7 linked regions of the Homo sapiens genome follow. The protein of the gene in region 1 interacts with the protein of each later gene in a pairwise test. Each region holds a gene or a part of one and is shown on either strand. Other genes may lie near its edges. The genes, in order: EHHADH, HIP1, AARS2, HID1, CBS, CISD2 and LZTFL1.

Region 1 (3,500 bases):
TTATTATTATTTAATAAATAACCTACATGGTACTGGCATATAACAGGCAAGATAAATGGTAATATTATAATGATTCACATTTTTATATTTATTTATTGCCATGATTCTAACATCTGTGTCTTTTCAGACTACCATTAACACATATTAAATTTCTCTGGCTACAGTAAGGTTGAATAGGCCCCCATATCCATGTGACTTTTGTCAAAGGGTATAATGTATGAATATTAAGGAAAAGACGCCATATATGCCATTGAATAAATCACCATTTCAGCATACTTTTGCCATATTTTGTCAATAATTTTGCATCTTCACACAATAACCCAATAAAGCAGTGCCATGGTCACTGAGATGGGTGACTATCGGAAGAAAAATGAATTCTATTATAAGACTCTGTGTGAATTAAACAATAACATTTATTGACCATCTTCTTTGTGTAGGTACTGTAGTAGAGGCTTTCAGATATGTTATCTCGCTTAATGTCACAAAAACCCCTTAAAATAGATATTATTGTTCCCACTTTATAGATAGAGAAATTGAGGTTCAGGAAGTTAAAGAGATTTGCCCAAGCCCACATATGGTGGAGATACATGCAATGCAGGTATATATCAGCAGGTGTATAACAGCCATCAAGTCTGGAACTAAATATACTCTAAAAGCCCAATCCACAATAAAAGAGACTAAGCCCTTCTCTGGGTCTCTCTTGTAATTCCTGTCCCTTTCTCCACAGTGTTACTCATTCTCACTCAAGTCTGCCATATCCATTACCTACACTAAGTTATTACCAACAAGCACAGCTAATGCAGTATTGGTCTCAGTCTGTGGCTGGATTCCAGAGATGGTGGGAGAGGGTTAGACTTGAGTTACCTGCAGAAAATTTGCCCTCTGCTCCACAAATCACAATGGCTTTTATTGTATGGTCTATTACAGCTTTCTGTAGTCCTTCTTTTATGTCACGGAGTAAAGTCGTACTAAAAGAAAACAAAATACATGAAGTAAATCAGTCAGAATTAAATTCCTACCATTCAGAGTGTTTTCCTTTCCTAAAAATGAAAAATTAAACACACACATAATGGATAAAAACTGTAGATACTTCTCAATAAAGCTTCCAACAAATAATATGTCTACTATGACTATTAAATTTCTTCTACAAATAATATATATGCCTATGATTAATTAAGCACTGACCAGATTAAATTAATCCACTTTTTAAAAATGTAATTTTCCTGCACTGTGCTTTCACTTTGACCGCTTAAAATTGACACCAACCAATTTAAAAATATTATTACATGTCTTCTATATATTGTACAAGGAGTTATCCAATACTTGTACATAATTTATCATGTAAGGCACACTAAGATATCTGAGTGCTGTAATAAAGGTACAAAGAAAAAGTGATGTTGAAGTTCAGAGAAGGGTGAAATTACTTTCAGTTTTTCATATTGTTAAAATATAAGAAAATTAAATGAGAAACAGTCTAGGAGCTGTGGCGGGGGCTGTGAGTTACCTCAAATATCCATTCCTCTCCATCGTCTTCATAGTATTAAAACACTTGGTTTTTACTTGAATATATGTGATATGGTTTGGCTCTTTTTTTTTTGAAATGGAGTCTTGCTCTGTCACCCAGGCTGGAGTGCAGTGGCGCGATCTGGGCTCACTGCAAGCTCTGCCTCCCGGGTTCACGCCATTCTCCTGACTCAGCCTCCTGAGTAGCTGGGACTACAGGCGCCCGCCACCACGTCCGGCTAATTTTTTGTATTTTTAGTAGAGACGGGGTTTCACCGTGTTAACCAGGATGTTCTCGATCTCTTGAGCTCGTGATCCACCCACCTCGGCCTCCCAAAGTGCTGGGATTACAGGTGTGAGCCACCGCGCCCAGCCTGGTTTGGCTCTTTATCCCCACCAAAACTTCATTTCAAACTGTGATCCCCACGTCAGGGAGGGACCTAGCGGGAGTTGATTGGATCATGCCAGTGGTTTCCCCCTGCTGCTGTTCTGTGAGGGAATTCTCAGGAGATCTAGTGGTTTATAAGTTGCAGTTTCCCCTGCACTCATGCCTCTCTCCTGCCACCTTGTGAAGAAGGTACTTGCTTCTCCTTTGCCTTCCACCATGATTGTAAGTTTCCCCAGGCTTCCCCAGCCATGTGGAACTGTGATCAATTAAGCCTCCTTCCTTTATAAATTACCCAGTCTCGGATATGTCTTTATAGCAGTGTGAAAATGGACTAACACAAAAATATGGTTGCCCAAAATAAAGACTATATTTTCCAGCCTGCTTTACAGTAAGGTCTGCACAAGGAACTAAGTTCTAGCCAATGGGATGGAAGCATATTTGGTATATGCAACTTTGGGGAAGAGTTCTTAAAGATTTGGGTATGCTTTTCCCTTTTTCTTTCCTCCCTATTCCTGGCACCAGTGATGGTTAGATCAGGAGCAGCCACCTTGGATCAGGAGGTAGAAGCTATGTATTGAGGATGGTAGAGCAAGAGATAGACAGAGAAAATAATTGAGGCCCCTGTTGATTGTGGAGCAGCTGTATCATTCCAGGGCACTGCTGTGAGAGAAATTAGCTTTTTATTGTCTAATTCACTATTATCTTCACTATTCTGTCAGTGACAGCCAAGCGTAATCTTAACTAAGATAAGATATAAAGGCAAGATAGTGGAAAGATAGGGCATGTAGCAGATTTTGCCAAGTTTTAATATATGAGGAAGTCATCTGCAGAAGAGATAGCTAAAACCAAGACTGAATGAGTCTACCAAAGGAAAAGAGAGCTGAGGGCAGATCCTCTGGATATATCTTCATTTAAGAAGTGGGACAAGCTCAGCAGAGTGATTCAGCAAGTGAGCTCAAAGTCACAAAGACCAAGAGAGAAAATTTGTGAAGAAGGAGGGGATTAATAAGTACCAAGCAATAAGAGAATCTAGGGCAAGTGGTGAGGAACTGCTTAAAAGGAAAAACCACAGAACCAGATTCCAATCAGTTTTGCCTTGGAATTCCAAGTATTCTGAGTAAAATCTCTGTTCTTTAGTACACAGGGTTAAAAATAAATTTTAAAACAAAACAAACAACAACAAACTTCTGTAAAGGCCATATTGTTAAGACCAACAACTATTAGTTAAAACCCCAAGAAATAAAAAGGATACTTGCCCTTATTTATAATGATTCCCTTACACCTAATTACTTTTCACCTCTTAACCTAGATGAAATCAGACAAAACCTCTTGGCTTCAGCTGGTTAATTAGAAGCCAAATCTGACCATGAAAAGCAAATTCAGAACCATTATATAACATCAAAAAGTCCAAAAGGCACACATTTCCTTCTGAATAAACAATGCTTACAAAACTAGCCAAAATTAGCTCAATCAGTGCCACTGAGGAGAAGAAACCAGCTTTTCCCATTTCAACCTATCTTCCTTTTTTATGTTCATAATTTTGCAAATATCAAAAACAGGAAAAAAATGAAAATAGCTATAACAGATACGCACTTTACTAGATTCAAGC
Region 2 (3,500 bases), on another chromosome or scaffold:
GCCGCTCTCCACAATCTCTCTCTGGAGGTCCTTAGAGGCCACGATGAGCACCTGAATAGCTTGCATGAGGCTGGTACAGCAACCAAGGATCCTGCCAAACAAACAAGTCGAGGATACACTGAGATCAAGATCCAAGATCAATGAACACGACGGTTCTCTTCCCCACTCCTAGCCAAAGGCAAGCTTGGAATGGGAAAGGGAGGTAAGAAGGGTGCTGAGGTTGCTGGAACATTCTGCGGGGAGGCACCGAAGGAGAGGCTGGGGAGTGAGAGAGATCTAATTGTGGGTCTCCATCGTAAGGAATAGTGAAATTGTGATTCCTAGGACTTCTTTTCTTCTTTTTTGAGACAGAGTCTTGCTCTGTCGCCCAGGCTAGAGTGCAGAGGCACGATCTTGGCTCACTGCAACCTCCACCTCCCAGGTTCAAGTGATTCTCCTGCCTCAGCCTCCAAAGTAGCTGGGATTACATGCATGCACCACCACGCCTGGCTAATTTTTGTATTTTTAGTAAAGATGACTTTTCACCACATTGGGCAGGCTGGTCTCGAACTCCCGACCTCAGGTGATCCTCCCTCCTCAGCCTCCCAAAGTGCTGGGATTACAGGCGGGAGCTACCGCGCGGGTTTCTTTTCTATAGTGAAACAGCAATATTGCTGTCATCATTAATACTGTTATTGATGATTACATCAACTCAGCCCTTCCCCGTGGCTGCTACTGCTCTCCTCTAATTCCCTAATAAGTATGCAAAGTATAGACCAATGTCAGGAAGACAGATCCTGCTCCCCTAGGTCCCACCATGCCGCTCAGACCGACCTTTCATTCACCTCCAATTTGACTCCTGTGTCTCCTGCTCGGGATTTGCTGAGCATCTCCTGTGAAAAAGAAGCATGGTTTCTAAATGTGCCTTGAATATTAAGGATCCACTAATGTCTTACTATACTTTCAGTCCAACATCGTGTGGTAGCTGGGAAACCTGAATCTGGAAGTCCCCAAGTCCCTGCCCACATTCTTGAGAGAGTCAGAAAAGAATCCAGACTCTAACCTATTCAGGGGGAGTGCAGCTGCAGTGGGCTGGCTCTGTGATCCGTGTCATTTTGTTTTGTTTTGAGATGGAGTCTCACTCTGTCACCCAGGCTGGAGTGAGCGGTACGATCTCGGCTCACTGCAACCTCCGCCTCCTGGGTTCAAGTGATTCTTCTGCCTCAGCCTTCTGAGTGGCTGGGATTACAGGCACGCGCCACCACGCCCAGCTAATTTTTGTATGTTTAGTAGAGACCAGGTTTCACCATGTTGTCCAGGCTGGTCTCAAACTCCTGACCTCATGATCTGCCTGCCTCGGCCTCCCAAAGTGCTGGGAATACAGGCGTGAGCCACCACGCCTGGCCAGAACCCAGGATGTTCTGACACCAAAGTATCTGATTCTTGAGGAAACTAATCACCTTCTCTCATGAGGACCTTCTCTCATGAGGACCTTCTCATTTTCTATCACTCAGAAAAACTAGCGAGTTCAGATTTTGGTCTCTCTTTTTTTTTTTTATAATTTAAAAACATTTTTACAGACAGGGTCTCACTCTCTCACCCAGGCTAGAGTGCAGTGGTGCAATCATGGCTCACTGTAGCCTCCAATTCCTGGGCTCAAGTGATCCTCCTGCAGCCTCTGGAGTAGCTGGGACTATAAGCATGCACCACCATGCCCAGCTAATTATTTTATCTTTTGTAGAGATGGGGTCTTGCTATGATGTCCAGGCTGGTCTCAAACTCCTGGACTCAAGTGATCCTCCCAAGGTGCTGGGGTTACAGGCATGAGCCACTGTGCCTGGCAAATTCTGGTTTCTGTCTTAGGGGGTTGCCATGGCCTTAATGAACGACTGTGACATGTTTAATGAGCAGTGTTGCAGAAGGGCAGCTGCAAAGGCATCGTTTCAGGAGATCCTGCAGGAACCTCCTACCTCTATTCTGGCCGTGGCAGTTTCAATAGCAGCTGAAGTGGCCGCCATCTCCTTGTCCACCAGGTCCCCCAGCTCCTCCTGCTTGATGTCCAGTCCCCTGGGCAGGAGCTCCTGTGAACACATCACAAAGGCTGAACTGACCTTGGGGCCTCCTGTCTCTTCTCCTCTGCCATCTGTAACCCTTACAAGATGGCAAGGCAGGAGGCCACCCAGCAAACACCTTCTGCAAGCCACAGGGGTTGTGGGGGGGTCTTTTGCAGACCCCATCTTGTCCTCTCTGTGACACAAACTCTGGAACCTCATGCTCCTCCTCACTCAGGATCCACCTCCTTCCAGAATGCCATCGCTGCCTCCCCCTGCAAGGCCATTCCGCCACCACTAAGACCCCAGTCCCTTAGTTGTGCAGTGTCAATTGTACTAGCTACACAGGAGGTATTTTTTTACAATTTTTCTTTTTCTTTTGCTTTCTTTCTTTTCTTTTCTTTTTTTTTTTTTTTTGAGACAGAGTCTCAATCTGTTGCCCAGGCTGGAGTACAGTGGCACAATCTCGGCTCACTGCAGCCTCCGCCTCCCGGGCTCAAGGGATTATCCTGCCTCAGCCTCCCAAGTAGCTGGGATTGCAGGTTTGCACCACCATGCCCAGCTAATTTTTATATTTTTAGTAGAGATGGGTTTCACTATTTTGCCCAGGCTGGTCTCAAACTCCTGACCTCAGGTAATCCTCCTGCCTCAGCCTCCCAAAGTGCTGGGATTACAGGTGTAAGCCACCACACCTGGCCCTAATTTTTTATTTTTTTGAGACACAGTCTTGCCCTGTCACCAGAGATGGAGTGCAGTGGCATGATCATAGCTCACTGCAGCCTCGACCTTCCATGCTCAAGCAATTCTCCCACCTCTACCACCAGAGTATCTGGGAGTACAGAGGTGCACCACCAAGCCCGGATAATTGTTTTTTTTTTTTTTTTAATAGAGATGGGGTCTCACTATGTTGCCCAGGCTGGTCTTGAATTCCTGGGCTCAAGTGATCCTCCTGTCTTGGCTTCCCAATGTGCTGGGATTGAATTACTATACCTGGCCTACAACTTTTTCAAATACAGATGATATCTTCCACTTTGACCCTGACTTAACTTTGCTTCCACAGTGATCATATGAGGCGGGTATTATTCCTACTGTGCAGATAGGAAGCCAGGGATCAGAGGTAGAACGTCTTGACCACAGTTATGGTAACAAATGGCAGGGCAGGGATTTGAACTAAGGTCTGACAAACAGCAAAGCCTATGATTTTTAAAACATGATGTGTTATACATACTAAGGTATAAAATATATATGAATGGTTCAAAGGATAAGAATAAAGACGCATGTTATCCACCACCCAACTTAAAACTTAAGGAATGCTGTAAGAAACATCAATACCTTTGGAATCCTATTTGAACTTGTATGTGCCCTGATTCTATCTCCCTTACTCCCTGCCTTCTACCCCAAGAGACACAGAATTCAAGAGCGTGGTTGTTGTGTCTTATTTTATTTTTATTTTTTAAAGACAAAACATAA
Region 3 (3,500 bases), on another chromosome or scaffold:
CACCTATGACACTGACCTCTTTTCCCCGCTGCTCAACGCCATACAGCAGGTGAGTGCCTCTTCCCTTCCAGAAGCCCTCTAACCTGCTCTTCACAGCCCTCAGCCCCATTGCATTCCATCTTTGTTGAGAACTCAGAGTGTTCTCAGCATCTGAGGACAATAACCAACCAAGAATTCCAAGACGTCAAGCAAGACACTAGGATTCATTACTTATTACCTGATGTTCCTCCTAACTCCTTGCCTCTTTCATTTATTTAGAAAATACGTGTTGAGTGCTTACTTTATGTTAAATCCTTTGTGTTTGGTACAGAAGACACAGCAGTAAGCAGGAAAGAGATCATGGAGATTATATGCTAGCATGAGAGATAGACAATCAATAAATGTGTTAAAGAACAAGGTAATAGCTTACAGATTGTGAACAGGCAGTAAACATGGGTGAAAGTAACTAGGAAGAAGGAGGGGTACAGAGGAATCTTAGATAAGGTGCTTGGGGAAGGCTCACCAAGAAGATGACCTTTGAGCTGAGCCCCAAAGGAGGAGTCAGCTACAGGAAGTTCTTTCCAGGCAGAGGGGACAGCAGGTACCAAGGGCCTTGGTACTGATGGATTAGATGGGGAGGGGAAAGAGAAATCAAAGATGGCTCCCAGGCTATTGGCTTGAGCAACACAGTGAATGGCATGACTGTTTACTGAGATGAAGAAGCTTGGGGAAGAGAGAGGTTTGGAGCTAGGTGAATCAAGCTCCCTGCTTTGGAGCATTTCCACATGTGTGTAGCTTATACCCTCCCTCCTTGCCCCGCAAGAAAGGGCTTGACATGTGCCAAAAACTAAAAGGTGGCCAGCCAGCTAAAGGAGAATCCCATGGGATATAGTAGGAACATGTGTCAGTTGGCTTTTGCTGTATAACCACCCTAATGCTCTGTGGCTTAACCAACAACCATGTATCTGCCCCCTGAGTCTGTGAGCTAGCGTTTAGGCTGGGCTTAGCTGGCTCATTCTTTGGTCTTGTGTGAGCTCATTCATCCATCTGTGGTGAGCTGAGAGGCCGCAGCTCCTCTGGGGCTTGGCTGGCTGTCAGTTTGGGGGCAGTAGGGGTGACTGGACCATGTGTCTGTCATCACCTAGCTGGCTAGTCTGGGCTTGTCCACATCACAGCTCAGCAAGGTTCCAAGACAGAGAGCAGACACATAGGCTCAGAACAGTGTTGTTTCCACTGTATTCTATGGGCCAAAGCAAGTCACAAAGCCAGCAGAGATTCAGGGGATGGAGAAATGGATTCTGTCCCTTGATGGGAAACAGCTGTAAAGTCCCATTTTAAAGTGGCATATGCCTAGGAAAGGGCCATTTTTGTGAACAGTCTCACAGAGAAGAAGGCAGAATCCAGTCTTGTGGGCCTCAAAGTCCAAAGTGGGGCCTTGATTCTCAGAGTGGTGAGAAGAGTTCTCAGGGCTGGGCACGGTGGCTCACTCCTGTAATCCCAGCACTTGGGGAGGCAGAGGGGGGCGGATCGCTTGAGGTCAGGAGTTGGAGACCAGCCTGGCCAACATGGCAAAATCCTGTCTCTACTAAAAAAATAGAAAAATCAGCCAGGCATGGTGGCACACACCTGTAGTCCCAGCCACTTGGGAGGCTGAGGCAGGAGAATCTCTTGAACCCAGGAGGTGGAGGTTGCAGTAAGCTGAGATCGTGCTACTGCACTCTAACCTGGGCAACAGAGTGAGAGTTCATCTCAAAAAAAATAAATAAATAAAAGTGTACATCAGATCATGCCACACTCCCCACTGAGAACCCTTCTTTTTTTTTTTTGAGACAGAGTCTTGCTTGCTCTGTTGTCCAGGCTGGAGTGCAGTGGCATGATCTCGGCTCACTGCAACCTCTGCCTCCGGGGCTCAAGCAATTCTCGTGCCTCAGCCTCCAGAGTAGCTGGGATTACAGGCACCCGCCAACACACCTGACTAATTTTTGTATTTTTAGTACAGATGGGGTTTCACCAGGATTGGCCAGGCTGGTCTCAAACTCCTGACCTCAGGTGATCCACCCGCCTCAGCCTCCCAAAGTGTTGAGATTACAGGTGTGAGCCACCGCGCCCAGCCTGATGTACACTTTTAAAAGGCTACTCCTGTTGCTGTGTGGAGGATGAGCTGGAGGGAGATGAGAGCAGAAACTTAGGAATCAGTTGGGAGGCTATTATCGGTCCAGGCAAGGACCACAGGGCATGCTTCGGATAATAGCAGTGGAAGTAGAGACAAGTAGATTGATTTGAGAGATGTCATGGAGGTAGGAGCAAAAGGAACCACTGATGGATCATGACGGGTAGGGGAAAAAGAATTCAAAGATGGCTCCCAGGCTATTGACTTGAGCAACACAGTGAATGGCATGACTGTTAGACGAAGAAGCTTGGGGAAGAGAGAGGTTTGGTGGTAAGTGAATCAAGCTCCCTGCTTTGGAGCATTTCCGTGTATGTAGCTTACACTCTCCCTCCCTGCCCACCCCCACAAAAGATGGGAGAGGCAAGAACAGGTAGTGGAGAGCACCTGGAGTCCAACAGGCCCGGCTGAGATCTCAGATCTGCTCCTTGAGAGCTGGGTAGCCTTGTGTCACTGAGTTCCTCTGAGCCTCAGCTTCTTCTTCTTTAAAGCAAGCATGCTAATACCTCCTGGAATGGGCTGTTTTGGGGATTCGAGGCCATGTTGTTCAAGTACTCACCCAGTTCTGATAGTAGAAATTCAGTAAATGGTCACAGATATGTTCACTTGTAGCACCAAATATGAGCCCCGTGAGGGCAGGGCCTGGCTTGTGCTCATCTGTGAGGCTTCTCAGCCCAGGACTGGACTGGCAAGGCCATTCTGGATGTGGTTGGCTTTAGGGCTGAGGGCAGATGCTCTAGAGGCGATAAAGAGCACCCACCTGGGCCAGGTCAGGCAGGGCCACTGGCTGACTCTTCTGCTTCCCAGGGCTGCAGGGCACCCCCTTACTTGGGCCGAGTAGGGGTGGCAGACGAGGGGCGCACAGACACAGCGTACCGCGTGGTGGCTGACCACATCCGCACACTCAGTGTCTGCATCTCTGATGGCATCTTCCCTGGGATGTCAGGTCCCCCGTGAGTCTGGAAGGGCTACAGAGAGGACAGGGGCTGCTGGGGGTCTCAGGTGGAGGAGGGAGGGAACAGGAGAGGTGGGTCTGGTTGAGCCAGTAGGAGGAATGGGGAGAGGGAGAGCTTTGAGGTGGGAGCACACACTGGACCTCGTCCTTCCCACTCCCCATATTGCTGACCATGAGCCGCTGGGGATTCATGTCTGGGCTCTGAACCCCTTTAGGCTGGTTCTTCGTCGGATCCTGCGTCGAGCTGTGCGTTTCTCCATGGAGATCTTAAAGGCACCACCTGGCTTCCTAGGCAGCCTGGTACCTGTAGTGGTGGAGACACTGGTAAGGACAGAGCTTCTTTTTCACTCTGGGCCTCCCTGGGCACTTTGGGGAGCCTACCACTGAGCCTAGACAGTG
Region 4 (2,759 bases), on another chromosome or scaffold:
TGCAGCGGGCTCACCATGCAGGCTGTGGCCCCTGGCTGCCGGTCCCAGGCCTGGCTCATCTCCTGAGCCATCAGGTAGGGCAGGAACGGAAGAGAAAGGGCAGGTGTGGCAGGCCATCCGTCTCCCTGAGCCCAGTGCAAACAGTGGGCTCTGCCTGGGACGAGGCCAGAGAGGGCAGCCCTGGCCCTGCAGGTGAGGCTCTGCCCTCCTCCTCACCCACCCCCACCGAAGTGAGTCACTAGCAAGCATAGCCCTCCCAGCGCTGTCTCAGTGGCTGCCTGGTGAGGCCCCATGGCCTCTCCTGTGGGCTCTTTCTCTGGGCAGCAACAGCCCAGGGGCCCAAACCCTAGGTGACAGGGTCTGATCCTGCTTTCCCACCCAAGAAAATAACAAATGCTGGTTCCCAGTCATGCACTGGGGGCCCTCTGGGGTGCAGAGTCCCCAGCTCCCCTGAAGACAAGAGCCACACCTGGCCCCTCGCCTCAACCACAGAGTCAGAATGTGGAGCAGGAGGTTTTATTGTAAAGAGGCCGATTGTACAGAGCAAAGATTGTTCTGACACGGGGGGCTGGGTGGTGGGACCCAGAGGCCAGAGCTGGGTGAAGGATGAGGGGTGGCATCGCCCCATCCAGGCAGTGGGCAGGGCAGGGAGGACTAAACGGCTGCCTCCCAGTTCCCTTCCCTGCCCCTCATTACTGGGTAAGAGGGAGCCAGGCTATTTCCATGGATCCAGGAGAATATAGCAGGAGACCCTCACCACCCCACACCATGCCCCAAGGATACGGGAGGTGCCCCAGTCTGGCTTTTGCAGTCGGCCAGCTCCCAGCCTCCTCGAGGAGCAGCCTGGCCACACCTTTTTCCCCTGGAGCCTGGAACAGCTGGCTTTGGGTTAGGAGGCTGGAAGCACCCCCTTACCCTGTCCAGGCACCTCAAGGGACAGCCCGTGGTTCCCTGGTCAAACCCCTTAGGGCACAGTGACCCATTGGCTTCTGCCTCTGGGGCTGGGTAGCACAGGAGTGGGTGGGCACTGAGGGGCCAGCACTGAGCCAGGTCTTAAAGAGGGAGTCCGAGTGTTGGGGGCAGTGGTCTCTGGTGGGGGCATAGCCCCAGAGATGGGGCTCCTGTGAGTCCAGCCTAGGGGTTGAGGGGGATCTGAGCCAGTTCACATTGTCCTGGCCACAGGGGTCTCTAGGGCATGACACTCAGGGCCACTCTGCCTGTTCCAGGCCCTGATCGTGGTAATTTAAAGCTCAGAATGGTGGATGGGGGAAGCCTCAGGGACCAAGGCCCTGCCTTCCCCTAGACTGAGCCCCTCGTCGGCTTCATCCTCACACCCGCTGTATCTCAAACAGCTTCACGTCGGTGTCGTACCAGACAGGGGGGTCCACATTCCTGTGGAGGAAATGGGGGGTTACCCAGGTGCTGGGGCACCTTGCAGACAAGGCACCAGGAGGAGCTGGGCAGCAGGAATGGCCAAGCCAACCCTTTCCATCCCGATGTCCCACCCTGGGCAGCGGGTGCCACCGTCAACCAGGCAAGGCCGCCTTAGTTGACTGTCTTGACATGAAGTCCACCATAGGTGGTGGGGCCCAGAGCTGAGGTCCCTGTTGAGCCCTGCTGGGCAGGCTCTCAGGTGGACACCACCCCACTCCCCGGGGCCCACCTCAGATAGATGACGCCCCACATGTAGGTGCGGAACCACATGGCAGTGCCCGAGTTGGCCTGGTACTTGCGGATGAGGATGGGGTGGGGCACGGGCAGCAGCCCCACCAGGGTGCCATGCTGCAGGAACCGCAGGATCTCAGACTCATCCGTCAGGCCCCTGCGGGGAGAGGGGTATCTCCAGCACACTCACGTGGTCCAGGGGAGCACGGGGCTCACCCTGGCCACCCAAGACCCATGTTTCCCATCACACGCCTACCTAAGCCTAGGCTGGCCCCGCCCAGAGCCCACCTGCCCACACCACCGGCCCCGCCCACAACCCCGGCCCCGCCCACAACCCCCGGCCCTGCCGGCGCCCGACTCACTTGTCAATGCAGATCTTCTCCACCTGCGGAACCAGCACCTGCAGCAGCCTCATGATGGTCTGCAGCGGCAGCTTCGACTTCCAGGAGAGGACCTGGCGAGGGACGGGGTTCCTGGGGCTGAGAAAGCAGCCCCCGGAGGCTGCGGGGCAAGCCTGACCCTGACCCAGAACCACAGGCTCCCCAAGGCAGAAAGTACCCCTGCTCCTTGCAGCATGAGCCTGGCACCAAGCAGGACCCGGGAAGAGTTAATCCTTATTGATGGCAAGCGCCATGGCCCCGCGTTAAGCCAGAGCTGTGCCACGTGCCTCTCGGGAGACTGTGGCCTTTAGCCCTCACAACAGCGTGGTCAGGCAGGGACGGTAATTATCCCTGTCCCAGCGCAACTGGCGTGATCTCAGGAGACACAGGGCGTGGGGATGAGATTCAGGGGAGGAAGTCGGAAAGAGTGATTTATTAAGGAAGAGAGCACTGTGGGCACCTGGAGCTTAATCCTGCTGGGGACTCTGGCAACAGTGTAGACAGAGGAAGCAACCGAGCCAGAGAGGCTGAACACATGGGATGTCACCAGCCGGAAGGACCGACCCAGAGTCAGGCTTCTATGCTAGGGTCCTTTGATTCGGACATCTTGCCATCTTCACTGAGCTTCCCTGGGCCAAGGAGCCCCAACCCAGCTCCCGCCTCAGTACCATCTGCCCAAACCCCAGCCCCCGCTCGCCTGGCACAGGGTCCCTC
Region 5 (3,073 bases), on another chromosome or scaffold:
TGGCCAACATGGTAAAACCCTGTCTCTACAAAAATACAAAAATTAGCCAGGCACAGTGGTGCACACTTGTAATCCTGGCTACTCGGGAGGCTGAGGCAGGAGAATCGCTTGAACCCAGGAGGTGGAGGTTGCAGTGAGCCGAGATTGTGCCATTGTACTCCAGCCTGGCAACAGAGCAAGACTCCATCTCAAAAAAAAAAAAAAAAAAAAATTAAACATGGAGTTACCACATTAACCAGCAATGCCACTCCTGGGTACACACCCAAGAAAAGTGAAAAGAGGTGTCCAGACATACTCGGCCATGAAGGTGCACAGCAGGTTACTCACAAGGGCTGAAAAGCAGAAACAACCAGGTGTCCATCACCGATAAATGAGGAACCAAAATGTGGTCTATCCACACAATGGCTTATTATTCGGCCACAAAAAGAAACCAAGTACACGTGCTCTGACATGCCTGAAAATACCATGCAAAGTGAAATAAGTTAGACACGAGGCCACAATTGTGTGATTCCATTTATATGAAATGTCCAGAACAGGGAAAACCTATTTTAGACAACAGAGACACAAAGTCGATCAGCAGTTGCCAGGGGAGGAGGAAGACGGGAGGGGAAATGATTGCTTCACGGGGTGATGACAGAATGTTCCAGAACGTGACAGAGGTGGTGCCTACACAACTTTCTGGATGTACTAAATGCCGCTGATTGTTCACTTTCAAGTGATTGATTTTTAGGTTATTTGAATTTCATCTCAATTAAAAAACCCAAACACGCAAACTGCTCCCGCCAGCTCAGCCCCGAGCAGACGGCGCAGCCCGTGGAGGATGCTGAGCCACCCAGGCTTCTCCCCGCCCCTTCCTGGACTCTTCTCTCTTTTGCCTTTAATCCACTCTGCGCAGTCATTGCCTGTGTTCATCCTACCTGGCCGACTTCTCTCTCAATATTTCCTTGGTGAAACATCCTAAGAGGAAGTTACATTAGAGAAAATCACATATTTCATCTCATAGGCCGTAAACAGGGCCATTTAGGAAGCCATGTGTTAACGAGGGGAGACGGATGCTCTGTGCCGTGTGCAGGGATAACGGTGCCAGGCCAGGCAGTTACCAATCACGCGTGTGTTTAGGGCTCAGGAAAGCGAAGGAGAAGTGGGCAAGGGTGGCGGGCCCGCTCCGCACCGCCCAGCGCTCCGGACTTCACTTCTGGTCCCGCTCCTGGGCGGCCACGAAGTTCAGCAAGTCAATGGCGGTGACCACCCCGAACACCATCTGCCGCTGACTGGACTTCCCGGTGCTGTGGTCTGAGGGGAGAACGAGGCAGTGGGTTTGCAGGTGCCGTGGGAGGCTGGGTGGGCTGCTGCGGGGCAGGAGGCTCCTGAGGGCCTGGGGCACCTGTGCACCATGGGGGCCCAGGGTGGCTGGAGCCCAGCGGCGAAGGCTGTGTTCCTTTTTTTTTTTCTGAGACAGGGCCTCACTCTGTCCCCTAGGCTGGAGTGCAGTGGTGCAGTCTTGGCTCACTGCAACCTCCACCTCCTGGGTTCAAGTGATTCTCGTGCCTCAGACTCCCGAGTATCTGGGACTTCAGGTGCACATCACCACACCCAGCTAATTTTTGTATTTTTAGTAGAGATGGGGTTTTGCCATGTTGGCCAGGCTGGCCTTGAACTCCTGACCTCAAGTGATCCACTTGCCTCGGCTCCCAAAGTGCTGGGATTACAGGCGTGAGCCACTGTGCCTGGCCAAGCCAGTGTTCTTCTGACATGAGCCCCATGAGCCCCCAGGCCAGGTTCTACCCACCACGTGAGTCCCCTGGGCCCCAGGCCAGGCTCCACCCACCGCAGGTCAGGACACACCCTTCCCTGGCCCACCGGCTGAGCTCCTGAGGCACTCATGACTTCAGAGCCGGTGTGGGCATGAAATTCAAACCCGCTTACAGGGCCGGGCACAGTGGCTCACACCTGTGATCCCAGCGCTGTGGGAGGCCAAGGTGGGAGGATCATTTAAGCCCGGAAGTCTGGGACCAGCCTGGGCAACATATTGAGACCCTGTCTCTACAGAATATTTTTAAAAATAAATTAGTCGAGCATGGTGGCACACGCTTGTGGTCCCAGCTACTTGGGAGACTGAGGCAGAAGGATCAGTTGAGCACAGCAGGTCGAGGCTGCAGCGAGCTATGATGGCACTACTGCACTCCAGTCGGCAACAGAGCAAGACCCTGTCTCTAAAAACAGACAAAAACCCCTTGCCACCATGGGCAGCACACAGCTTCCATCTCTGGCCTGATTCTGTCTTCACCCCTCCTGCTTTCTCCTGGCAAGCGTAGACCCGGTGTTAATGCTGGCCGAGGCTCCCATGCCACATACCCAGACAGGGCTGTTGTGATGGTTAATTTTAATACAGATTAACGGGGCCGTGGGAGCCCAGGCATTGGTCACACGTCGTTCTGGGCATGTGTGAGGGGATTCCGGATTAGCACAAGAGTCAAGAGGCAGATAACGTGTGCTACTGTGGAGGGCCTCACCCAAGCAGTTGAAGGCCTGAATAGAACCAAAGGTGGAATTTCCTGCCTTGGGGCTTGAACTGCTGGCTCTCCAGTCTCCGGCCTGCCGCCTCACCCTGCAGATCTCAGGGTTTGTCAGCCTCCGTGATCTCATGATCCAGTTCCTTAACACAGATCTCGTTCCCTCTCTCTCCCCGCTCCCCACACATCCTCTTGGTCCTGCGTCTCCACAGGACCCTACACCAGCTGTCATGAGGCACAGAGGGGTGAGCAAGGTGCGGGTGAGGAAGAGCCCTCGGAGCCCGTCCCAACTCCGCCACGGCTGTCACTCCTCTCTTTGTAGGCAGAGGTCCCTTGGGGTGGCCCACTTAGAGCCCCAGGAAAAGATAGGGAACACAGATGAGATCAGCTCCTTGCATTTTGGGGAAACGGAGGCACAGCAACTGTTGGAGAAGGGAGCCCTGGGAGCCCTGAGTGCCGCAGGCTTCTGTGGCCCTGGCAGCTCGGCCCAGAGTCAATGGACTAGGGCCAGCCAGGGGACTTTCCGACAAGGGCCAGCTGGTGGTATTTTAGGTCTTGGG
Region 6 (3,500 bases), on another chromosome or scaffold:
AGATTTTGTCAACTACTTATAGTACTTATCACTCCAAACTCCTTCCCACATTAAAAATCATCTATAATTGAGGCTATCATTTACTACCTCATATTATTAAAGCAGTTTACATATATCATCTCACTTCTCAAAGATATGTAATGTGGATGTATCAGGTTAAAACAAACCCTGAAGATTAGAGATTAAAAATTAAGTAACTTGTCCAACCAAACTCATACTGTGACAAGTATATTTGACCACTATTTACTATGACACCAAAGCTTTTTTCCATTAAACCTTAGGTCCTCTCTCAAAGAATGTGTATTTTAAAATACATGTTACTCTACATAAATGCCAAACATTGCGAAGGCATTAGATTTTTATTCTTCTTTGCTGCTCCAACTTTTCTAATGTAGGTAGTATCTATCATGACATGAAAACTTCAATTTAGGAATATGGTCTTTCAATACCAAATATTACAGAAAATTCTCTCATCTTAAAGAACTTCAAAACTGGGGATTTAAGAGGCGAAACAATCCTAGCACTGCAAAATTTTAGTGTACACGTAAACAGACATCTTACCGTTTTAGAACGCCAACACCTACAATAAGCTGCTTTAGTAAGACACAAATCTTCAATGTTTATTTCATTCACTACTTTCGGATTTTCCTTTTGTATTTTAAGATTAATCAAGCTATCCTTCTGTTGTTTCTTCTTCGGGAGGAATGGACGAACTGCAAGGTAGCCAAGAAGTGCGAGTACACCAAGGAAAGGCAATAACCGAAGCCATTCTGAAACTAAACATGTAGATGTGTCAGAATCTGCAGTGCTCTTGGAAAAGAATTCAAAATAGCATGTCTAGTTTCATCCTTGAGCTTATTCTTTGTTACTTTTTACATTAATTCCTTTTTAATGGATCCATAAAACTGTGAATAAATAACACAATAAAGCCAGCTCTACCAAAGACCACCTTACTTTATTTATAATTTGAGACCAGTGAAACTAGAAACCTAACTTTTCAGAAATAGGTTCCATTTCAAATATCCTATCTCATTGTCTACATCAAGTCTATTTGTGTTTGTCTATTTTTATTTTAGGAGTTATGATCACTATAACTATAAACAAAATTCAATGTATATTTTATAAGTTAAGAAAACATTTTATCTCCTTAATACTATGTCAAAATCATACAACAGAATATCTGCAGAATTTTTACCACTGATTCATAATATCAGAGAGAACATGTCCTCTGATGCTTTAAGGTACATTTTTGGTAAATGTTGCTAAAGAACACTGAAATTTTGTGTAAAAGCTACTATTTTAAAGAACAAATTGAAACCTTCTATGTTGAATGTTCTCATTTTAAGATATATCTAATTCCATAAACTTCATTTAAAGCCTTTTGGAGTACCTAGCCTGTCTTAAGGGGACAGGGAATATAAGTGATACAAATGAAACAGTCCCTATGCATGTGGACACAAAAATACCAGGAAACCAAGATAAACATTTCAACATACATTTATCAAATGTCTGCTAGCACCCTGCCTCTGCTGGGCTCTTTTCTGTTCTTATAGAATTACCAGTTAACTTCCTTCACTGAATGCCGAATCTGATACCTTGCTAGGCACTATGTGGAAATAGCTTAGTTGAGAAAAGAGAAAAACAGAAAATAATATGCTAACTCATGCTAATAAACATTAAAGATAAATGAACAGGTTATGCTAAGAGTATAAGGGCACTAGCTCATTTAACACTATGTTAGCTTAAACAACTATATGTGGTAGGTATCATTATTATCCCCATTTTACATGTGAGAAAACTGTAGCCTAAGCAGGTTTAGTCCAGGACACCCTAAATCCAAAGCCTGTTGTCAGTTATCATGAATCAAACCCAATAGATCTAAAATTAAAATCTGTGCCTATCTTGGTAAAACTACTCTCAGGAGATAATAGTACTATTTAACTATTGAAAGAAAGACAATATGAACTCTTCCAAAATGGAATTATTTTTGATATAACATCATGCCAAAGAAATCTAAATGAAAAAACCTATTTATCTACCATTTTCATAGATAGCACCTATAAGAGTGGCTGGCAAAAAAGACACAATAAATGGTAGCTTTTATTCAGAGATTATAGAGATTGGTGAGGAAGTACTAGCAACTCCTTTGAAAAAAATATTTTGCCAAATAACTTGACAATGCTATATGGGCAAAAATCTTCAGGAATATAATCTTGTAGTTACCAGAATAAAACTCTGTAAAAGTATGAACTTTGTCTGCCATGCTGGCTGTTACATTCTCATAACCAAAGTGGAGACACTCCAAATAGGTTCTTTGAGTGAATTAAAGCTCTGGAGATAACACAGAACTGTTTTTGCGGGGAGAAGGAGGCCTAGGTATAAGATCTGTGCTATTCAATATGGGCACCACTAGCCATACTGTTTAGATTTGTACCCAACAGACTTGTAGAAACTGTCTTGAAATAACAGTTTATTACTTATAGTTCCCAAGAGGAGAGGATACACTATGCAATGCAGGGCCACATGAGAGGTACTAGGGTTGATCAGGAGGAAGAAAGAGGAAAGGGAAAAAGCATGGGCACAGGCCTTTACTGTGGTTTCCATGGAAAAGGCAAGGCAGGAAACTGTTCAGGACTGGCTAGCTTGAATAATTTCAGTGGGTTCTGGGCAAAAGTAGTGGTCCCTAGTCGTCTCCTACCTGTCCCTGGGGTGACTTAGGGCAGGAGAAATATTGACTGGAGAAATACTGACTTCATGTGTAAGGGTTAGATAAAGGAGGTGGTTGGGGGCATGGGCTTTGGATTGGTTGGTTTGCATATGAAAGGCATGCTCACAGGCAAGTTATTTAGTATCTCTAGGAATTAAATTGTCTCCACAGCCAACAAGGCTCCTAAGATATTAAAGCATAATAAAATACAGAAAATTGAAAACACGGTTAATATACACATGTGGGCGTGGTGGCTCATGCCTATAATCCCAACACTTTGGGAGGCTGAGGAGGGCAGATCACGAGGTTAGGAGTTCAAGACCAGCCTGGCCAACATGGCGAAACCCCGTCTCTAATAAAAATACAAAAAATTATCCAGGCGTGGTGGCAGGCGCCTGTAATTCCAGCTACCTGGGAGGCTGAGGCAGGAGAATCGCTTGAATTCAGGAGGCAGGGGTTGCAGTGAGCCGAGATCATGCCATTGCACTCCAGCCTGGGTGACAAGAGCAAGACTCTGTCTCAAAAACAAAACAAAACAAAACAAACACATGTGGCTATTCACATGTAAATAAATTAAAATTAAGTAAAATGTAAAATGCTGTTTCTAAGACACACTGGTAACCTTTCAGAGGCTCAATAGCTAGCTACATGTGACTACTGACTACCATATTGAACAGTACAGAGAACATTTCCATTACCACAAAGTTTTACTGGACAATGCTACTATAGATCATTGGCTCTATAAGGTGCCATCTCCAAAGAATGGCAAGGCTACCTTTCCAGCTTCAACTTC
Region 7 (3,500 bases), about 140 Mb from region 1:
GAAAAATAAATGCATGCATGTAATTTCATGTTGATATTCTAAAAATAACTGTTTTAGAATGGTGATTCAACATCATAGGAGATGAAAAAAATGATGTATGTTTTGTGTGCATGCCAGCCTCCCTTGCCAGCCTAGGTAAGTGCCAGCCCCTTCAGAGTCACCAGCAGGCCAGTCCATTGTCAGCCCTGGGTACGTGGTGTCTTGCACACAGCCGACACTCAGTAGCCACTGAATTCCAAATACATAAAATATGATTTGTGAACTGCTGGTATTTCCATCCAAGATGTGTGTACCAGGGTTGAGATGGCAAACAGGTTTCATTTTGAAAAGCCAAATTTAAAAAAATCCTCAAAGAAGTTTGAATTCTTCAAAATGATAGAAAAAATGATAAAAGTAATATAATTTATACCAAAAACTTAATAGACATATGTTTTAGTCATTATTTACAAGGAAATAATATGAGAGCACAATTACTGATTACATGGTTTTCTAAATTTTTAAGATTTTAAGTTTTTTATATTCATGAGATATGTGTAATTTTTGCATACTTTGACAACTATAGCATAAGACAGGCACTGGATCTTCTCTCTTCCTGGATCTTGTTTTTGACTGGATAAGATTCATGACAGAAAAAACATTTGTACTGATAAGACAGTAAAATGGTCTACAATTGGTTAATATGTAGATGAAGAAATACTTAGTACTTTCAAGTGGCTCTCACGCCTGTAATTCCAATACTTTAGGAGGCCAAGGGAGGAGGACTACTTGAGCCCAGGAAATTGAGACCAGCCTGGGCAACAGAGCAAGACCCCGTCTCTACAAAAAATATAAAAAATTAGCCAGGCATGGTGGCACATGCCTGTGGTCCCAACCACTTGGGAGGCTGAGGTGGGAGGATCGCTTGAGCCGGTGAGGTCAAGGTTGTAGTGAGCCATGGTTGCACCACCGCACTCCAGCATGGGAAACAGAATAAGGCCCTGTCTCAAAAGAAAAAAAAAAAAAAAAAAAAAAAGTACTTTCAACAGAAGAAAAAAAAAATCTTTCCTCATTTTTGAAATCTGGTCTTTGAAAAAAAGATTTTCATTGCAACTAATAAAAGCACGTATTCACTGGTTGTTCTTGTGTCCAAAATCTTAAAGTAAAATTGGAGCAAAGCCCCAAAAAGCTTTTAAACAAATTCATCAGCCACATGTGTTTGCAATTGTTTGACTTAGGAGAAATTATAAAGCGGTTCTGGAACATTCGTGTTTTTATAAATCTATTGTCATTGGCATATAATGGTTGAAAATCATTAGCTATATAAGAAGTATCCTCCTATTTTAAAAATATCTACAGATAAAATGGTTCAACGTCTGAGATTTGCTTCAAAAAAACATGGCTGGTGGGAAGAAGAAAGTAGAGGTACAAATGAAACCAGACTGGCCATGCATTGGTAACTGCTAAATAGAGTGAAGAGTGCATGGGGGTTCATTATACTATTCTCTCTACTTTTGTGTATGTTTGAAATTTTTCATAGAGAAAAGATTAGCAAAAGCCCAGTGAAGCAGATTTTGGGTTTGTTTACCAGACATTTGCAATGAGAGTATGACCACTAGAAAAGCCAATGCTGTACTGAATATCTACCCAAATGGTCCTGCTCACAGGAAATCATACTGCAGCATGCACACTCAACAGAAAGTCCACAGGAGACAGACTGTACATACAATGACTTCCCGCAGGCGGAGTGACATTCAGTCATTACATTCAGACAAGCATGAAGAACTACAACACTGGATTTCATTGTACTCTATGGTGCCGGCGGGTACAGACGCATCTGCAGATTCATAATCATTTTGTCACACTCATCAAAGGCAAACTTAAGTAATGTTCAGTATAATAAAACCCAAATATAAACCAATTAAAAACTTTTCTTTTCATTTTCTTTCCCCTCCACTGTAATTGGATGTCAAAGTGAGAGGGGAAACTTAAAAAAAAAAAGTGAGAATATCTTGCATACCAGGAAGATTGTAGAAAAACTTAAAAAATAAATGTGAGAATATCTTGCATGCCAGGGAAACTGCAGGTGTGTGAGCTATGTACTGTCCCCTCTGCCCTAGAGGATGGACAGAGGGAAGGTCACTGGTTCTCACCAGGCCTTTTGGGGGCAAGAATGTCCCAACACATGACAATAGAGGCATTTGTCTCAGGGAGTAGCAGGGGTGGGGTACAGTGAGCAGTAACTAAGACTTAATTTTAAGTTTATAACTTCATTCTACTTAGAAAATGTGAGAAAGGTAGCTAAAACTTGTTTCACCTTTTGATTTCCTTGATCAAGCTGTAAATCTTGCAGTGCTTTTTCTAGTTTTGACTTTTCATCCAGTGCATTTGTAGCCTATAGTGAAGTTTAAACAAAACACTTTCAGTATTTAATCTGTAGGCAGTTCAATAATTGTGTCAAAACATTTCTCAGTTACCTGTATTTCAATGGTCTTCAACCTTGACTTCAATTTCTCATTCTCTTCTTGAAGTCTTAAAATTTCCTTTGTGAGTAAATTCAAATTTTATTATATTAACCAAAATATTTTAATATTTGAAATTATTACTTGTTTCACTTAAAAATCTAATTTTTAAATTTAAATTACATAATAGCTCAAAAATGTACTACTGATATTTTGGTAATATCCCAATTTCATCCAGCCTATCAGCCTCAGTATCTGTGAGTCAGCTTTGGATCTAAGACATCTAGTTTCTTTTCTTTCAGTTTCTCAGACACATCTTCCCTCTTTCAGTCCTCTGTTTTCTGTTTTCAAATTTTTTTCCAAAGACCCGCTTCCCTGCCAACTTTCTCCTAGCTGGTCCTGCAAATCCTGGGTCTATTCTCAGCCTACACTGCACACTGTTGCCCCTTATCCTGAGAACTCCTTCACTTCAGTACCATGCTCAAGCCCACAGATGCTTCTGACTGAGGTGAGGCCAAACACTTTTGTTCTTATACAGCTCAAACATTTGAATCATCTGTGTTATTTTTCAGTAGACTCAAATAAACACATCAGCCCAGTCAGAGGGCACTGCACTCTGTTTCAAGTCATGCCGCCTCCTGTCTGACCACTGCCTGTTCTGTTCTCCTGCCCAACACACTCACTTCTCTTTCCTCTACAATTTAACTGGTCTTCATCCTTCAAGGCCCAGCTTAGGTACCCCTTTACCCAAGAGCCTGTTCTCACCTACTGTTATCCACACACAACTGAGTCTTCTCTGCTACCCAGTATGACACCTGTAGCACACAGGAGAATATTCTCTGGTCTCTATTTCTAGAACATCAGTTCTACTTTCCCAATAAAACTATTACATTTTTGGCCGGGCACGGTGGCTCACACCTGTAATCCCAGCACTTTGGAAGGCCGAGGCGGGCGTATCACAAGATCAGGAGATCAAGACCAACCTGGCTAACATGGTGAAACCCCATCTCTACTAAAAATACAAAAAATTAGCCGGGCGTGGTGGCAGGCGCTACTCGGAGG

Evidence for each region.
Region 2: the proteins of EHHADH (region 1) and HIP1 interact in binary tests that used the Homo sapiens proteins (3 or more experiments, as listed by UniProt).
Region 3: the proteins of EHHADH (region 1) and AARS2 interact in binary tests that used the Homo sapiens proteins (3 or more experiments, as listed by UniProt).
Region 4: the proteins of EHHADH (region 1) and HID1 interact in binary tests that used the Homo sapiens proteins (3 or more experiments, as listed by UniProt).
Region 5: the proteins of EHHADH (region 1) and CBS interact in binary tests that used the Homo sapiens proteins (3 or more experiments, as listed by UniProt).
Region 6: the proteins of EHHADH (region 1) and CISD2 interact in binary tests that used the Homo sapiens proteins (3 or more experiments, as listed by UniProt).
Region 7: the proteins of EHHADH (region 1) and LZTFL1 interact in binary tests that used the Homo sapiens proteins (3 or more experiments, as listed by UniProt).

Annotation. Positions count from the first base shown.
Region 1 is NC_000003.12:185,247,550-185,251,049, forward strand, and holds part of EHHADH (peroxisomal bifunctional enzyme), read right to left. Parts: intron 969-3,500; coding exon 865-968; intron 1-864. UniProt on the Homo sapiens protein: Peroxisomal trifunctional enzyme possessing 2-enoyl-CoA hydratase, 3-hydroxyacyl-CoA dehydrogenase, and delta 3, delta 2-enoyl-CoA isomerase activities. Catalyzes two of the four reactions of the long chain fatty acids peroxisomal beta-oxidation pathway.
Region 2 is NC_000007.14:75,546,942-75,550,441, forward strand, and holds part of HIP1 (huntingtin-interacting protein 1), read right to left. Parts: intron 2,061-3,500; coding exon 1,950-2,060; intron 873-1,949; coding exon 814-872; intron 92-813; coding exon 1-91. UniProt on the Homo sapiens protein: Plays a role in clathrin-mediated endocytosis and trafficking. Involved in regulating AMPA receptor trafficking in the central nervous system in an NMDA-dependent manner. Regulates presynaptic nerve terminal activity.
Region 3 is NC_000006.12:44,306,848-44,310,347, reverse strand, and holds part of AARS2 (alanine--tRNA ligase, mitochondrial), read left to right. Parts: coding exon 1-49; intron 50-2,906; exon of another isoform or gene 2,907-2,953; coding exon 2,954-3,099; exon of another isoform or gene 3,100-3,114; intron 3,115-3,272; exon of another isoform or gene 3,273-3,316; coding exon 3,317-3,425; intron 3,426-3,500. UniProt on the Homo sapiens protein: Catalyzes the attachment of alanine to tRNA(Ala) in a two-step reaction: alanine is first activated by ATP to form Ala-AMP and then transferred to the acceptor end of tRNA(Ala). Also edits incorrectly charged tRNA(Ala) via its editing domain.
Region 4 is NC_000017.11:74,950,242-74,953,000, forward strand, and holds the end of HID1 (protein HID1), read right to left. Parts: intron 2,120-2,759; coding exon 2,028-2,119; intron 1,823-2,027; coding exon 1,664-1,822; intron 1,393-1,663; coding exon 1,329-1,392; 3' UTR 501-1,328; downstream 1-500. UniProt on the Homo sapiens protein: May play an important role in the development of cancers in a broad range of tissues.
Region 5 is NC_000021.9:43,052,691-43,055,763, forward strand, and holds the end of CBS (cystathionine beta-synthase), read right to left. Parts: intron 1,294-3,073; coding exon 1,190-1,293; 3' UTR 501-1,189; downstream 1-500. UniProt on the Homo sapiens protein: Hydro-lyase catalyzing the first step of the transsulfuration pathway, where the hydroxyl group of L-serine is displaced by L-homocysteine in a beta-replacement reaction to form L-cystathionine, the precursor of L-cysteine.
Region 6 is NC_000004.12:102,882,492-102,885,991, reverse strand, and holds part of CISD2 (CDGSH iron-sulfur domain-containing protein 2), read right to left. Parts: intron 944-3,500; exon of another isoform or gene 777-943; coding exon 562-776; intron 1-561. UniProt on the Homo sapiens protein: Regulator of autophagy that contributes to antagonize BECN1-mediated cellular autophagy at the endoplasmic reticulum.
Region 7 is NC_000003.12:45,828,620-45,832,119, forward strand, and holds part of LZTFL1 (leucine zipper transcription factor-like protein 1), read right to left. Parts: intron 2,520-3,500; coding exon 2,454-2,519; intron 2,372-2,453; coding exon 2,294-2,371; intron 1-2,293. UniProt on the Homo sapiens protein: Regulates ciliary localization of the BBSome complex. Together with the BBSome complex, controls SMO ciliary trafficking and contributes to the sonic hedgehog (SHH) pathway regulation. May play a role in neurite outgrowth. May have tumor suppressor function.